Homo sapiens: one gene and its partner. The protein of the gene in region 1 interacts with the protein of each later gene in a pairwise test. Each region holds a gene or a part of one and is shown on either strand. Other genes may lie near its edges.

Evidence for each region. Proteins that work in one complex are often made in the same cells at the same time.
Region 2: the proteins of LDLRAD4 (region 1) and ZDHHC22 interact in binary tests that used the Homo sapiens proteins (3 or more experiments, as listed by UniProt).

What each region holds. Positions count from the first base shown.
Region 1 is NC_000018.10:13,213,839-13,222,078, forward strand, and holds the start of LDLRAD4 (low-density lipoprotein receptor class A domain-containing protein 4 isoform alpha 1), read left to right. Parts: upstream 1-4,921; 5' UTR 4,922-5,150; intron 5,151-8,240. UniProt on the Homo sapiens protein: Functions as a negative regulator of TGF-beta signaling and thereby probably plays a role in cell proliferation, differentiation, apoptosis, motility, extracellular matrix production and immunosuppression.
Region 2 is NC_000014.9:77,131,102-77,139,042, reverse strand, and holds the end of ZDHHC22 (palmitoyltransferase ZDHHC22), read left to right. Parts: intron 1-5,094; coding exon 5,095-5,360; 3' UTR 5,361-7,773; downstream 7,774-7,941. UniProt on the Homo sapiens protein: Palmitoyltransferase that could catalyze the addition of palmitate onto various protein substrates and be involved in a variety of cellular processes. Catalyzes the palmitoylation of KCNMA1, regulating localization of KCNMA1 to the plasma membrane.

The DNA.
Region 1 (8,240 bases):
GCCACCTCAAACCAGCAGCCATCACTGCAGCCTCAGAGACCCAGAGCTCAGGGAAGACTCAGCTACCCTGGGATGCTCTGTGGGGTGCAGGGGACTTGGGGGCCACCTTGGCAACAGGACAGATAGAGCTGTGGCTGTACAGACTGAGATGCGGGAGGTGTGCGCAGGGCTGGGGAAACTTTAGGTACTGTAATATTTGTAAGAGATCTGACAGTACATGTATCACAGCTCAGGAAACGCTTCATCATTTTTCAGCGATGTAATGTGTAGATACCACACACAAATATGTCTGGATGGATTGTCTTTGAGGTCACACATTTCTTTCTTTCTTGCTGTGTTTTCCCTTTGTCTTCACTCCCTGGCCCCTAAGGAGAGAGCAGGTGCTGTGGCTTTTGCCCAAGGAGAGAGCTCTGCAGCCAGGCTGAGAGCAGAAGTTGCCTGCAGAACACTTCTCTTTCCATCCTGTGTGATTTTCAACCTGATCCCAAAGGAAGTGAATGAGGTTGGTGGGTCCTGGAGCAGCGGGGTCCACAGGATCCCAGGGAGGGGATGGGTATGCAGATGGGGACTTGGCCAGTGTCACAGAAGACCCCATGAAGTAGTAACTATTACTTCCAGTGTACAGATAGACGCTGAGGTGTGGCGATGCTGCGTGTTGGGGCGAAACGCGCAGGAGAAGTCGTCCAGGCTCAGGGACAGAGCCCTTGCTCCGGGGCTGCTCATCGTAGATTCTGGTCCTGAGAATCTAGAGCGGGGCTCCCACTTCTCCAGGACCAGAATTACCCACATGAAGCTTCTCTTTCTCATTTCCTTCTATTTCTCATTTAAATTAAAGAGTACAAGGCATAGGATGAATCATATTGGATAAATTTCATTTAAATGTTATGCATGAGATCCAAGAAACAAAATTGTGTTCTCAAATTCACATTCAACTTGAGGTCACTTGGCCCTCAAATTCCCTTTTTCTCAACATTCGTTCATGTTTCCCTTTTCTATTTATGTCTCCTTAGATGACTGACTAGCAAACTTCTATGGACTAAGTATGGCCAGGGTATAATTGACATGAGACAGGCTGCAAGGATTGACAGTGAAAAATAATCTTTTTCACCTCTCACTCTTTGAAACCAATTTCAGTTGATTTCCACCCAATTTTAGTAATATTTATCTCAATATTGTTTACTCATCTATCCCAATACTAAGGTACCATTCATTCCAAAAAACCCTTTGAGCCCCTTGTGTCAGGCACTATTCTGTGTACTGGGGTCCAAGTTCTCCACCAACGGAGCAAAACAAAGTCTCCGCTCTGCTGCGCTTCAGTCTGGGCCCTTGGAATGAGCGAATGGTCAGGATGAAGCCGATGTAGAATCATGTTGCATTTTACAGAGAGCAAACTTACATCTAAGTACCTCGAACTCTTAGCATTGCTATAGGGAGAGTGTGTGTGTCTGGAAGGGTGTGGGAGGGAATAGCTGAAGTGGAAAACAAATACAGGGAGGACTGAGTAGGAAACACAGGGACAGGCCGGGCACGGTGGCTCACGCCTGTAATCCCAGCACTTTGGGAGGCCAAGGCGGGCGGATCACGAGGTCAGGAGATCGAGACCATCCTGGCTGACACGGTGAAACCCCGTCTCTATTAAAAATACAAAAAATTAGTTGGGCGTGGTGGCGGGCACCTGTAGTCCCAGCTACTCGGGAGGCTGAGGCAGGAGAATGGCATGAACCTGGGAGGCGGGGTTTGCAGTGAGCCGAGATCACGCCATTGCACTCCAGCTTGGGCGACAGAGCGAGACTCCGCCTCAAAAAACAAAACAAAACAAAACAAAAAAAAGAAAACACAGGGACAGGTTCCTCCCATATTTTCTAGAGATAGAAATACAGAGCCGCAGCAGTTTCTAGTTATAAATAAGATAAGAAAGGGCAACACGAGATTGAGATTCATCACAAATGGTAGAAATTGAGATTATGATTTTAAAATTCAGCCCTCAATTTAAGGCGGTTAAGTTAGACACAGAGAAATTATGTGCAAGTGAAATAGAAGGCATTGCTTTGTGGTTTTGGAAAAACTTTTCTTCTTCATTGTCCATGGGGCGTTTAGATGGAAAAAGTCATTTCTTTTTCTACCTAAAGAGGGCAAGAGCACAGTTTCTCCAACCCCAAAGCATGTGAGTTTTGCATTTGTGGACATTAAATATAAACTAAGTATATGCTTGTCAGATTAGGATAACCTGTGTGAAGCACTTATCAGCTTATTGCTCATTTAAAAAAGTTTACCCAGGCAGCCAGGTTCAAAGTTCCCCTGCTACAAGCTTCTCAGTTAGACCAGGACCTGGGCATTCCCAGCTGGAGCGGGCTCATTGCCGGGCACAGGGCAGATGCTGGCTGGTTTGCGGGCTGAGCTGAAGAACTGTCAGCGCTGCTGTAGGTAGGTGGCAGTATGGCATGCTGGTTCAGCTCCCAGCTTTCTATGCAGCTAGTTAGGGATGTAAAACCATCTCTTTGTGGTCTGAGGACAAATTACTAAATCCTTCTAGCCTCAACTTCGTCATGTGTAAAATGGAGAAGTAATAGCTCCCAGTTATTGTGAGGACTCAATCAGACAATCCATGTAAAGCGCTTAGCACAGAAGCGCTCCATGAATGGTAGTTATTATTACATCACATATGAGCACTGATCAAAGGCTAGCGGCAATTACCACCATAGCTGAGAGCTGAGGGCTTAAGGGAAACTGAATTCAGCCAACATTTCACTAACTAAAAAGTCACTGACAAATTAGACAAAACGTAGGTTTCAAAAGATTCATTTCTCTGACATTACGGAAATATGAACTGGACAACTTTTTGGGGGGTGTGTGGGGACAGTTGAAAATGTTCACTCCTTTAATCAGCTGCATCTATCTTAAACCCAGCCTGAAACCCCTGCTTAGTGTAGTATTTTGATATGTCTGCAGGGGGGTTAATTTTGGCAGAGGCGAACTAATTTTGGTGACTGCAATAAAATTGGGTTAAAATGCTCATATGCTCTGGCAGTAACCAATCCCCCATCAAACATGGTAGGGGTGGCTGGAGGCAATGCGTGTACTTCTGAACAAAGTCTGCACTCAGGTGGAGGTCAAGTCCGAAATGGTCTTCACAGGAGGTGTAGGTCCTTCAAGGAGAAAGGGTCACAGCGCGAAGAATCCATCTGACCTTCTAGGCAGGAGCCATTTCCTTTAAAGAGGGCAGGATACTAAGGGGGCGACCAGGTGGGGTCCGGGGGCGCCTCAAGCTCCTCAAGGCTCGCCGAGCACTGCTCCGTCCTACTAAGTGTCCTGCCGCCCGACTGCACGTCTCTAGGCGGCTGCCCGAGGTCCCGCGGCCCGTGGTGCACACGCAGCCCGCGAGGTACTCTGTGCTGGAACGCGCCCCCAGCCTCCCGAAACCGCCCCCGGCCTGCGGGCAGCGAGCCGGCTCCTCCGGGCGCCCCTGCAGCGTACTCTGCGCTCGGCTTGGAGTTCCCCGTGCGGCCGGCGGTGGGCGCGCGCCACGCGGGCCCGAGCCCTGGGCGGGAGTGCGGCCCCGGGTCCCGCGGCCTCGGCGCCCGCGCGCCTCCCCCACTGCCCACCCCCGGCCTCCGGGCCCGCCCCCCGCAGGGGTCGGCGCAGCCTGTGAGCCGGGGACCCCTGAGCCCCCGCCACGGCGGCCCCGGTACCCGCGGCCTGGCCGCGCGCCGGGTCCCCACCGCGGAGTGGGAAGGAGGAGGAGAGACTGGAGGAGTTGGAGACAGACACAGCCGCGGCGCGCAGTCACGGCTGGAGACAGACGGCGGCGACGGCGGCGGGAGGCGGGACACTCCCCCCTCCGGCGACTGGAGGCGGGACACCTCCCCGGCGGCCGCAGCGCCGCGTCCCCTCTCTCCCCGCGCTGAGGCTGCGGACCGGGCCCGGCGGGATTAGCAGGCGAGTGCGTTGGCCCTGCCCGCTCCGCGCGCCGCCGCGGCCGGCCGGGGATCCCCTGCAAGCCACTGAGCCGCTGCCGCCGCTGCAGCCAGACAGGCTGCGGGTGCCTGGGAAAGTGGAAGCAGGGCGGGGAGCGCGGGGGAGGCCCGGGGGTGAGGTCCTCAGCTCTTAAAGAACCCCGGCGCGCCGCGCTCCCCGCCGGCCCGCCGCGCGCCCCCTGCCGCGCCCCGCACAGCGCCCCTCCCCCTGGCCAGCAGGGCCGGTGGCCGCGGAGCCGCACTGCGGGCAGTCCCCGCCTCCGCTCCGGGGGGGCGGCCCAGGTGAGTGCGGACCCGAGGTGGCCGCAGTGGTCGGGGCTTCTGGCCCAAGTTCACCGCTGCGCTCCGGAGGGAGGGGTGGCGGGGGACTCGGGAACCGGACGCTTTGGGAACTGGACGTCCGCGAGCCTGCGCCGTCGGCTGGGGCCGGAGGGAGAAGCTGGGCGCCGAGCGCGCGAGGTCTGTGAGGCTTGGTCCGGGTGGGCTTGCCGGTGGGCACGGCGGGGATCCGGGGCTGGCCCGCGGGCGGGGTTACGCCGGTGGAGGGACTTCGCCGACCCCCACCCCGTTTTCTGTTTCCTGGTGCCCTGGGGCGCAGGGTGTCCCGCGGTTGCAAGACTGAATTCTGCACCGCCCGGAGGCCAGGATGGGCGCGCGGATGGCAGCCCCAACTGTCTCCGCGCCCCTAGGCCTCGGCGAGCCGTGGCGGGCAGGGACTGGAGGTCAGCGGGAAGCGGGAAGATCCTGCAGGACCTGACCGGGGAGTTTGCGGGAAGGAGGGGGCGGGCCAAGCCCCGCAGCCCCTCAGTCCCGCATCCTGCACCGCGCGCTCCCCGGCCCCGGCCCCTCGGGCCCGCTTCACCCGGCGTCCCCCCGGGTCCCCCCGCGCGCGTTGACGTCGGTCGCGGGACCGCCCGGAGCTCCCGGCATTGGCTGGGAAGTCGATTGTCTGGGGCTGCTGCTGTTGCACTTAGGCTGGGTCTCCGAGCCCCGGAGGAAGCAGGCGTGTGTTGAATTTCTCTCTGCCCCTCACCTTGGAATAAACAGGAAGCGACAAGCACCCAGCCCGGCCCGGCACTTGCCTTTGTGAAGGGGTCTGCCCTGCACAGCCTTTAGGAAGCTTCCTCGGGACCCCTTCCCGGTGCGCCGCCCCGGGTGGGCCTGGGGGCGCGCCCTGTGAGTACACCGGTGGAAGACAGTGGGTTCGGTTTAGGTTAAATCGCTATCGTGGCGGAGAGGGCATTTGCTTGTTTAAACTTTTTTTTTTTTTTTTTTAATTGGAAAAGGAGAAGGTTTCCCGATGAGGCAGAGGTTTTCAGGACGACAGGGACGCATGGTGGGTGGGCGGCACTGGGGGAAGGCGCATCCGAGAGTACAGCGTTCTTGGGTCACCTACCTGGAGGGACACCTCGTCGCCAGTCAGGGCAGCTAGAAGCTCTTTAAAGCAAGCAGGACTCCTTAGCTCTGCCCAGGCACAGGAATGGTTGCTGTGTGCCCATAGCCGCATGAACTAGCATGATTTTTGTTTTTCCCCCAAAATTTTTTAATTAGCTAGAATTAGATAATTTTGATTTGCTTCTTTTCTTTTCCTCTGTGTCTTGGTCTATTCCCTTCTCTTTTTCTCTTTTCTAATTATTTTGGCATCTTCTCATCCCCGGACCAGCGCTGCTTTCTAAATGTTAATTACCATTGCAATACATATTTATTGAGGGCCTACTATGTGTTAGGCATTGTAGGATGTGAGGTAAGAGTAGCTGCACAGAATGTGGGTTCTGAGCGCTAGTATTAGTAAGTTATTTGCAGTAGAGGTGGATAGAGATGGTGAGCAGCATTGACTCTCAAAAATAGGGTCCTATGGCTGGTAAGGAGGTTGGTGCCTTCTCGAAGGGCTAGTGCTGGGAAGCTTCCTTTTAAAAACGGCCCTTTCTGCCGGTTTGGCTAGCCAAGAATGGCATCCTCCTCTCTGTATCTTCCCTGGAGCTTCAGGACTGAGTATTGAATGACAGAGAAGGTTCTGCAAAGTCTGCACAGGGAGACTGCCATTGCATCAAGTCATGTCTGCATTCTGTATATGGTATTGTCTTTTCTAGTCTTTAACTCGAGTGTGTTGTCATCTGTAACTCTCCCTTTGTACTCTGCACAATTCTTCTGGAATATAGTCTTTGTGTTCAGTCAAGGATCAGAGTGTCAAATCTGAGTCATTACATAGACAAATGAGGATGTCTGAGTATTACCCATGTATATTTATTGAATTATATTTGGTTTCCCATCAACCCTTGAAATGTTATTTGATGGACCTTTCTAAGCAGTGCTTTTTAAAACAGGGGGCTAACTTCCTTATGATCTTTGAAAGCTTAATTCTTTTTAAGAGCTTCATTTTGCTATTGACATTGAACACAGTGTTAGGAATTAGGGCTGGGAATGTAAATGCCAGTAAGGGATTTGCTGTAATGGAATTGTAGCTACCTTCCTCCCTTGTTTTAAATGACCTCTCTAATTTCTTAACATTCTGCTGTTACCCTTGGAAGGGCTTGCCATTGTTGGCCATGGTCCTGGTTCGTGTAGGTTTGTATTTACATTGGAGAAGACTCTTCCCGGCAGGTTTTTAGGGCTGTCTCTTGAATCCTCTCATGGGCTTGGTTTGCAAGACCACAATCCTGCAGTGGAACGCAGCCAGTGCCAGCTGCTTATTAAGGGATTTTGTGCCAATTTGTTGGCACATTATTTGAGACTCCTGCACCCCACCCTACTCCCACTGGAGTATATACATACATAGACAAATATTTATTTTCCCCCAACTGCTGACAGTGTTCTAAGAATAGTTTTCTTGCCTGGCACGCGGAGAGCAAGGGCCCGTCTGCAGAGGTGTTTACAGTTTGGGACTGTGCTGTAGTCTTGGTTGACTTAGCAGCCTGGCAGACCAGCCTCATAGCTCCTGGGACGCTCTCTGTTTTTGCTCTGGGCTGCTGCAGGGGTAACCTCCCTGACTGATAGGGAAGCACAGTCAGAGGAGAGTGACTTTTGCTCCTTGTGCATGGTTTCTGGCAGGCAGTCCAGCAGAGATCCCTGAGCTCCTGACGTCTCTGCATGTAGCCAGCATAAAGTCTCCTTGTGGTGGGTGGGAGGTGACTGCTCTACGTCATCACGTAAAACCAAAGCCACCTCAGGGCCCTGGGCAGGAATTCTTGAAATTGTAGACTGCTCTGATCTTTCTGGTAGTCCTTGCCATGTTTCTTCTCATCTTTCTTTGGAATCTGGGCTTATCCAGTCTCTATGATGTGTCCTTCTTCCTGTGTAAGAGTTAGTAGAGAAGGAAAAATGTTATCCCTCAAGAAGTGATAAAACATTGTAAAAGAAGAGCGCACCATATTAACCTGGAAAAATTTTTGGAAATAGTTAACAGAATGTATAGCGGCACATGGATATTAAATATGAATAGCGGCAAAATTGCTATGTAGTCCAAAATTATTCTTTTCTTTCTTCCTTCCTCTCTGTCTCCTTCCCTCTCTCCCTCTGTTCCTTCCTTTTTTTAGGTCTCAGAAAAAAATCTCCTGGAAGCCATTATTTTCTGATGTCAAAGAGACTTTCTGCCTATATGAACTGTGTTAGTTTAGAATTACATCTTGACCTATATTACGGGTGTACATGGAAGATGAGTCTTAAGTTTCAAAATAGGAATGCAAAGGTTCTGTCTACTATTTGAAAATTTAGGCCACAAGACCTGCCACTTTTTAGGGACATTTTTTGGGGGGCATTGTTTGCTTCATTGTTAGGCAGAGAAAGGACTGAAGCTAGTACCTGTACTATTAATTATGCTGAAAATATTGGGTTTGAATTTTCAGTTAATGTCATTTTTTTCCATCACAGGAGGAATTGAAAATGATGTCTGTATTGTCACATATCCATGTGATTTAAGAATGGATTGCTTTTCTTTTGAGTTCTCACTAAAAATGGTACTTTGGCCTTTTAAGCTGTTTTTGTGAAGACTTTTCTTTCCACCAAGCTTGTTTTCCAGATAGGTCTTGGAGATTACAAAGAACATAGATATAATTTCTCCCTTGATTGGCAGCTGCGAGCTTTCCCGGACAAAAATAATGCTGCACTGTGCCAAATGGTTGACTTTTCTAGAATAAAAACTCTAAAGGGTATGCAAAAAGTCCTCTGGTTAATATATTGGCATTCCCAGAACCCACTAACACTCCGGCAGCCTGCCAGACTCCACTTAACGAGGACACAGAATGTCTGGCTCAATCCCCATGAGCAGAC
Region 2 (7,941 bases), on another chromosome or scaffold:
TATGTCCCAGATATTGTATGAGATACACTGAGAAAATTTGCTATTGGCTATCTGAAATGCAAATTAAGCGGACATGCTGTATTTTATTGGTAACATCCCCCCTTGCCCCCATCATTCTCATCCATCATGCTGTCCATATGCTCACAGAGTTGTGGCATCCAGGTAATACACCTGCTCTGTGCCAGGCAGGACTAGGTGCTGGCCATTCCTCCATGTAGCCCCATGAGGTACAACCATGCTATGACATTCCTCTGCCTGGTCCCCAGTTCTGCTTACATGTCACCCAAGGACTCTGCTCTCCAGAGGTCTCACCAACCAATTGCAGTAATATTGAACTTGTTGCCAGCCCAGCCCAGCAGGAGGCTAAGCTCTGTCCTCCTGCCTATTATGTTTGACCTCACCAGCCTGTTCTCCAGCCTGCTGATGGCTCAGAGCAGAGGGAACGTGGGTGGGAGAGGCAGGTTTTTTGTTTTTTTTTTTTAAGACAGAGTCTCACTCCATCACACAGGCTGAAGCGCAGTGGTGAAAGCAATCTCTGCTTACTGTAACCTCTACCTCCCAGGTTCAAGTGATTCTCTTGCCTCAACCTCCCGAGTAGCTGGGATTACAGGTGCGTGCCACCACGCCACACTAATTTTTGTATTTTTAGTAGAGATGGTGTTTTACTGTGTTGGCCAGGCGGGCCTTGAACTCTTGACCTAAAGTGATCCGCCCACCTTGGCCTCCCAAAGTGCTGGGATTTACAGATGTGAGCCACTGCGCCTGGCTGAGGACTGCACTTTAACTAGTATGCACCAAGGACCACTACCTGATACCTGGCCCTAGAAGGACTCAGCTCCTGGTGGCAGTTCTTACCACTTTATTTGGCCTTGAGACTGGCTCCTACTGCGTTTCCTTCCACTTCCTCCCTACCCTGGCCTTTGACTCTGAATGGCTTAGCTTCCACAATCAGTAGTGTCTACGTGCTTGAGTGTGCATGTATAGCATTGCTATCTCCATTTCTCAGATGATGAAACCGAGACTCAGACGGGACTAAGTGGCTTGCCCAGTGTCTTCCTGCTACTGAGTGGCAGTCTCTGGTCTGCCTCTCAGGTCCTTAATCCACAGCTCTTCTGCAGTGGCTCAGGGAATAGAACATGCTTCCTCACCTGTTGGCCTTCTAGGAGCAAAGAAAGGCAGAGGGCAGCTACTTCCTCTGAAAGCCCAAGATTGTTTTGAGGTGCCTGGGCTGAACATTCATAAAAATTCTGCTCTACTCTGGGGGAAGCCATCATTTCAGTCTTTGTGGTGGCTACAGCCCAGTTCTTCCCAGGCATAGAACTATCATGCCATTTGGCAGTGGGAACACAGAGATACAGGGGGGACCCAGCTACGGGGGCTGCCTTCAGGGCTGGTGGCTGAGCTGGGTCCAGAACTCACAGCTTTCAGGCCTTCTGGATCCCAGCACTGGCACAGGAGGCTGCCGGGACCAAAATAACCAGGACGGGGGAGGGTGGGTGGGTGGGCTAGTGGGTGGAGTGTGAGCACAGGCAGGTGGAGGGATGAAGAGAGCCAACAAGCCTGCTTATACTTTCTTTTCCAAGTAGTTTCGCCAACCGTAAAAATGGATGGTTCCAGAAGGAAGACCTTGAAATGGTTTGATTTGAGATAAATCTGGGCTTGAGGCCTGTCCATATGTGCTAGGTTTGATCTGATGGGAGAACAGAGCCAGTGAGTGCCCACCTTGGGGCCCAGACTCCTGTGCCAGCATGAGTTCCAGTGTCTTTCACTTCCTCACCATATCCACTGGAAACAGGCGAGCAAGACTTCTTACCTCCAACTCTCCTATCTCATCTTTTGTGACCTTTCATCTTTCCTCTTGAGGACCTTCCTTTCTTTCCCTCCCATGACATACACCCCACCTGTTTGGCTTTCCCTTTCCCATTCCTCTTGTTCCCCAACCCTCAATCCGAACAGTTGGTAGCACCCTCTCTCATCTGCACAGGAGGACAGGTGGACAGAAAAGAGTAAGAAGCATGGGTTGTTTAATAGAAATTGAGTTCAAGATCAGCCTGGGCAAGATGGTGAGACTCCGTTGCTACAAAAATAAAAAATAAATAAATACACTAGCCAGGCATAGTGGCATGTGCCTGTTTTCCCAGCTACTCAGGAGGCTGAGGTGAGAGAATTGCTTGAGCCCAAGAGTTTGAGGCTGCAGTGAGCTATGATCATGCCACTGCACTCTATCCAGCCTGGGCTACAGAGCAAGACCCTGTCTCAAGAAAAAAAGAAAGAAAGAAATTGAGCTGTCCCCAACTGTGGTACAGATCTGAGTCAGATCTGTCACCAGAGCATGGATGGCTGTGAGTTTGGGCCTTGAGAGCTAAAAGTGGGAGGGGTCTTCTAGTGTGAAGGTGGCGGCCAACCACAGGCCCTCAGCTGATCCAGAGAGGGAGGCGGCTAGCTAGTTAGGTTTCAGAAGTTACCCTTTCTTTTGGCTTTGTGGGACCAGTACAGGTTGCTGTGTCACCTCTCTGAACCTTATTCTTATCTGGGAAATGGAGATGCCACCATCTGACCTGTATCTTGGCATTTGGGTAAGTACACCAGCATGATGGGTGCTACCAGAAAGTCCAGTAAGAGGGAAAGGGGACTAATGTTCATTGAGCACCTATTATGTACCACCCACTATGCATGTCACATTTCACCCATTCCTCTTGACAAGTCCATATTATCATGTCCATTTTTAAGGCTCAGAAACCAAAGACTCAGCAAGGTTAAGTTGCACCAACACCACACAGCTGGTACGATTCCAAACCAAGATTTGGAGTTGGGGCTTCTAGCCTCCAAAGCTCATACTCTTTCCACCCACCATACTGCCTCTTGGGGGCTGCCTCTCTGAAGCTGCTTCTCGAATGAGCCACTTTGGAAGGGAGGCAGCTACTTGTCCTTGGATGTATTAAAAAGTATGCTGGGTGATTATTTGTCAAAGGTGTTATAGATGCCTGTTGGGAGGAAGGGGCAGGGGAGATTGACTGATGTGTCCTTTTAGGCTCATTAGGAAAATTCTGTGATTTTTAAAAAGAGGCAGAACTATTATTAAATAGTTAAGAGGAGCTGAAGCAGCCAGGCTAGGTAACTTCAAACACTTTTAGAGAAAGCAGGTCCCCAGAATAGCCTTTTGTAGCTGCTGCATGGGGCCAAGAAAAGGCCGCAAGTTCTTTTTCTCATGCCTTGATTTAGTGCCAGGAAAAAACCCTGTGGGAAATGGCTTCCATCCACCCAGGCTTGTTCCTGGGGCAGTGTTGCAAGGCAGGCCCAAGCTTGACAGCTCTGATGTTCTCACATCCCAGCTTGAGGGCCACCTTTGCCTGTCAGCATTCCTCACGCCAAAGAGCACCATGGACCTGGGATCCTCCATCCCCCACATGGCTGCCCAAGCTAATCTGTGCCGACATGGAAGAAGTGGGTCAGGGGATGGCACAGCCCAATGTGAGCCCTGTCCCACTGCTGCCCCTGTGCCAGTGGAGGGGCTGCTGTAAATGGCAGCTGGGCCTATCTGTCCCCAGCTTTGTAAAAAAAAAAAAAAATAATACAGCTATCCAAGCTCCTAGGGATGAGGACAAGAGGAGGCTGCTAATGAGAGAATCTAAATCAGATCCACATCCTCCATGGCTGCTGAGTCCACCACTGCTCATACTGGACAAGTGTTGAAAGCCCAGTTGACAGGGCTTTGGAAATTGGAGGTTGGAGAGACTTGGGAAGAGGTGGGCTGGGGCAAGAGAAGGCTAGGGAAAGGGCAAAATATGGTTGAGATTTTCAAGGGCAGAATAGGTTGTAAGGTGGAGTCCTTAGAGGAGGTGCCCCCCCCCCACCAGAGGAGGTGATAGGGTTGCCCTACAGGGAACCAAAGGCTAAGGAATACTTTCGAATTAACTCCAGGGTCCAGTGCCCTGGCTGCTGGGTAGGTCAAGGTAAGTGTCTTTGCCACAGCTGCCAAAGTTGCAGCCCAGCCAGGACTCTAAGCCCTGAAAAGGAGAAGGAAAAAGCTTGATAGTTTCAGGAGTTGAACTCATTTTGGATGTAGTCTCCTGCTCTGTAAAATGACCCTCTGCTGGGAGCACCGCTCTGAGTGTGAACCGGAATGCTGACCACTCTGTACATCATTTTCTTGAAACATGCAGCTGTATGAAATCGTTAGTGTTATTATACCCATTGTACAGATGAACGAGCTGCAACTGAGAGGTTGGGACACTTGTGCCAGTCCACACAGCTGGGAGATTCAAACCTAGCATGGACCAGCCACCCAAACTCTGAGGAAGAGTGTGGGAGCTCTTACTCAGTGGTTATTTCAAACCAGTAATAGGAAGTGCTTGGTTTAGAGGGATTCTGGGGAGATCCTGCCCCACGACACAGGGCTGATGACCTTGGGGGCCTCTTCTAGCAAGCTTTGATTGACAGAACCAGCTCTGGTGGAATGCGGTGGTGGCCACACTGTCCTCTTGTTAACATTAATGACTGAATTATTCTCTACGTTGGTGTTCTGGGCTGCTCTTCAGACTAAGCTCGTGACTTATTCTTCCCAGATCTCCATCATGCTGTCATTTTCCTGAGTCCTCTCAACCAGCGTTCCCAGAACAGTAGGGAGAAGGTGCTGTGGACTAGACAGCTGCCCAGGCACCTGCTCCCTCTTTAGGGTCCCCAGCTCACCCCTCTCTCCTCCTGAGCAAAACCCCTTCACCCTGCTTCTAGCCCAAAAGGAGAAAGCAGAGAGAGACAGGCATCTCCTACTCTACAGAAATGTTATCAGCGGCCAGGTGCTGCCCCAGGAGCTGAGGGCTGTCCTTGCTAAGCTCATCAAACTTAGCTCTCTTCTCTGCCATGTCTCCAGTCTTCCCCTCTTGCCTCAGGTGCCATCCGCGCCAAGAAAAAGTTAGGGCAGCTGGTTCTTCCTTCCTCTCCCTCACTGCAGCTGCAGCGCTGAGGTTGCTACAAAATGTAGCGTCAATCTCATTAATCTCCCTCCCTCCCGGTGGAAAGCCTGCCTAGATCGCAGTTATGCCGGTGGCCTGGGTGTAAAGCGGCTCTGGTGTTTCCCCTCCCCGTGCCCTGCAGGAGCTGTCCTGGGTTCTGAAATGTTCGTCATCCTCATGCTCTACCTCTGGTTCGCCATCGGCCTGGCCTGCGCCGGCTTCTGCTGCCACCAGCTGCTGTTGATCCTCCGCGGGCAGACCCGCCACCAGGTGCGGAAGGGGGTGGCAGTGAGGGCCCGGCCCTGGCGCAAGAACTTACAAGAGGTCTTCGGAAAGAGGTGGCTGCTGGGCCTGCTGGTCCCCATGTTCAATGTCGGAAGTGAGAGCTCCAAGCAGCAGGATAAGTAGTAGACACTCCCGTCATTTATCTCTCTGTCTCTGTCTTGACTCCTCCTGAGCATAAAACCATGGCAGCCTTGTCTCCACCCATGACTCACTACAACCTTGTGCTGGTAAGGTCCTAGCATCTTCCCCTCACCTTCCACCCATGAGAACAGCGTGAGCTGGTGGATCATGACAAGGAGGAAAAATGTCCCCCCAGGCATTTCTAGGCTCCTCACGAGCCAGCCAGGTGGCTGCTAGCTGTTAGGCTGCCTCTGCTTTCTTTCCGTCCCCTTGGGATCCCTGCTTTCCCCCTCTTCCTGGCTCATCCATTCTCCACCGTGTCTCATTCATCACTGCTGTCTGCTAGAGCCCTTCCTCTCAGCCCCCATGTTGGGAGAGGGGAGTGGATTCTTGCTGCTGGTATGAGACTCCCTGGGACCTAGAGGCTGGCAAATGTTTAAAATCACCACGTGTAAGAGGCAGCCAAGTCAGCTCTGCCAACTGCTAGGGGAGTTGGGAAAGAGTGGGTGTGTGTCCGCATCCCCTCTGTAGGAAAAAGAACTTAGTAGCTTGCTGCTCCCTCACCACCCCCCACCAGGTTCAAGACCCTTTTTCTGGGAGACAGCAATCAATGGCCTGCTTTTTCCAAATGTTATTCCCTGTCCACCCTGCCCCATCTGGCCGGCCCAGCCCAGTCCAGGACCTGGCTGGATGCTTCCTGTCCCTGGAACTCTTCCAGCCTTTCTACTTGATCTCCAGCCCCCAGGTCTTTGCCAGATGATGGGAAGGCAAGGAAGAAGGGACAGGGAAAGATAATTACTGATAAATGAAGGGGATATTCGACTGTATAACCATATGGAAGTGTGTGTGTGTGTGTGTGTGTGTGTGTGAGAGAGAGAGAGAGAGAGATGGGTGGTGGTGAGAAGTGTTGTTAGAAACATATAGGAATAATGCCTAGGGGAAAGGGAGAAGTGAGAGGGACAATTGGGTTCATTTATGCCCTATACAAAGGGCATTCCAGCAGCTGAAACTCTTCAATGTTTGAATGGCTGCCTGTGAAGGTAGTGAGTGCCCCATCACTGGAGGTATTCCAGCAGAGTCTAGGCAGTCGTCTGCCAGGCATGCTGTGGAAGGGATTTCTGTACAGGGTCATTCTAGGTGAGCTTACACATTCCTTCCAACCCCAAGGTTCTGATGTCCTGGTTGTGATTGCTGGACCCAGAGGCAAGATCTGCAGAGATGCCTGTGAGATATTTGCTTTCCTAGAGGGGAGTGTGGGCATGGGAGGGGTCTGAAAATCAGGACCCAACCCAGCCACTGAAGAGAGAGTCTCTGCAGAGACAGGGCTACCTGGGTGGTTGAGGGGACTGACATTTGAGGACAGGGAGATGGAGCAGTGTCATTGTCAGTGGCAGGGCATGGGGGGCAGTGGTGAGCTAAGGCTGAGGAGTGGAGATGACCAGAATATAAGGGTGCAATTCCCAGACCATCCCTGCGCATCTGACTGACTCCGGTGGAGGCACTGCTGTGTGTTTTCTGAAACCTAGAGGACCAGACCTCTGGGGCATATAAGGGAGTAGGGACAACACAAGTGCCCCCTCCTGACTGGGTCCCAAAGCCAATATGACATCCATGCAGGCAGCAGTGCTGAATCCATGCCCTGCAATGTCCAACCGCCAACTGCAGTGACCCGCTGATAGCTGCGCAACAGCCTGGGTTCTTGAGCAGAGATTGGGAGGACTTTACTGTGGTTCTGCCTTCACACCCCCTAGAGAGCTAATGTAGTATTGGCTCCACCTGCTCACATTTCTCCCTCCCATACTCATTCCTTCACTCATCCATCCTACGTATATTTATTGAGTGCCAACTACGTTCCCAGCCTCTTCCAGGCACTGGCAATGCAGTGATGAACAGGATGACAAGATTCATGCCATCAGGGGCACCTTGTCACTGCCGTCTGTGCACTGATTCACACTCCCTGCAAAATGGTCACTCTGCCATCTTGGTGGTTGGTGGGGCAGGTCATTTGGAAATAAAGAATGTGATAGAGATGGCTGAAGAGGGGAAGCCTAGGCTGCCTCAATGGAGGAGTCGCTGGGGGCATTTTCACCCACAATTCTGGCCATACTTAAGCAATGGGAGGGAGAGGGAGGAGGGGAAGATCTGGGCAATTTTGGCCTTGACTCTTTCCTGGCTCCAGAGCTCAAGCTTAGAAGCCAGCCCTGCTATTTCCAGCCTCCTGAAGGCTCAGCACGGTGAGGCCTGACATCCTGGGGAAGGGCAACAGGGAGACCTACAGGATGTTGGCTGCTTGCAGACTGGTCAATGGGGGATGACGGTGGGGAGGTTGCCAGATGTGAGACTTGAGTAGCATTTGTACACATGGCCCTGTATTGTCCTTGAAGAACATCAATAAAATATATGGTTTTAAATTGGATTTGATATGATTGTATGGGCACTGTTGGTAGCAGGGCTGGACTGTACTGATGCAGCCATACTAGCTATTCAAATATTTAAAATAAGTATTGAAAATACTAAGAAATTCTTACAACTAAGAAAGTTGGTAAACAACCATGGCTCAGATTCTCTGAGTATCCTACCCCTT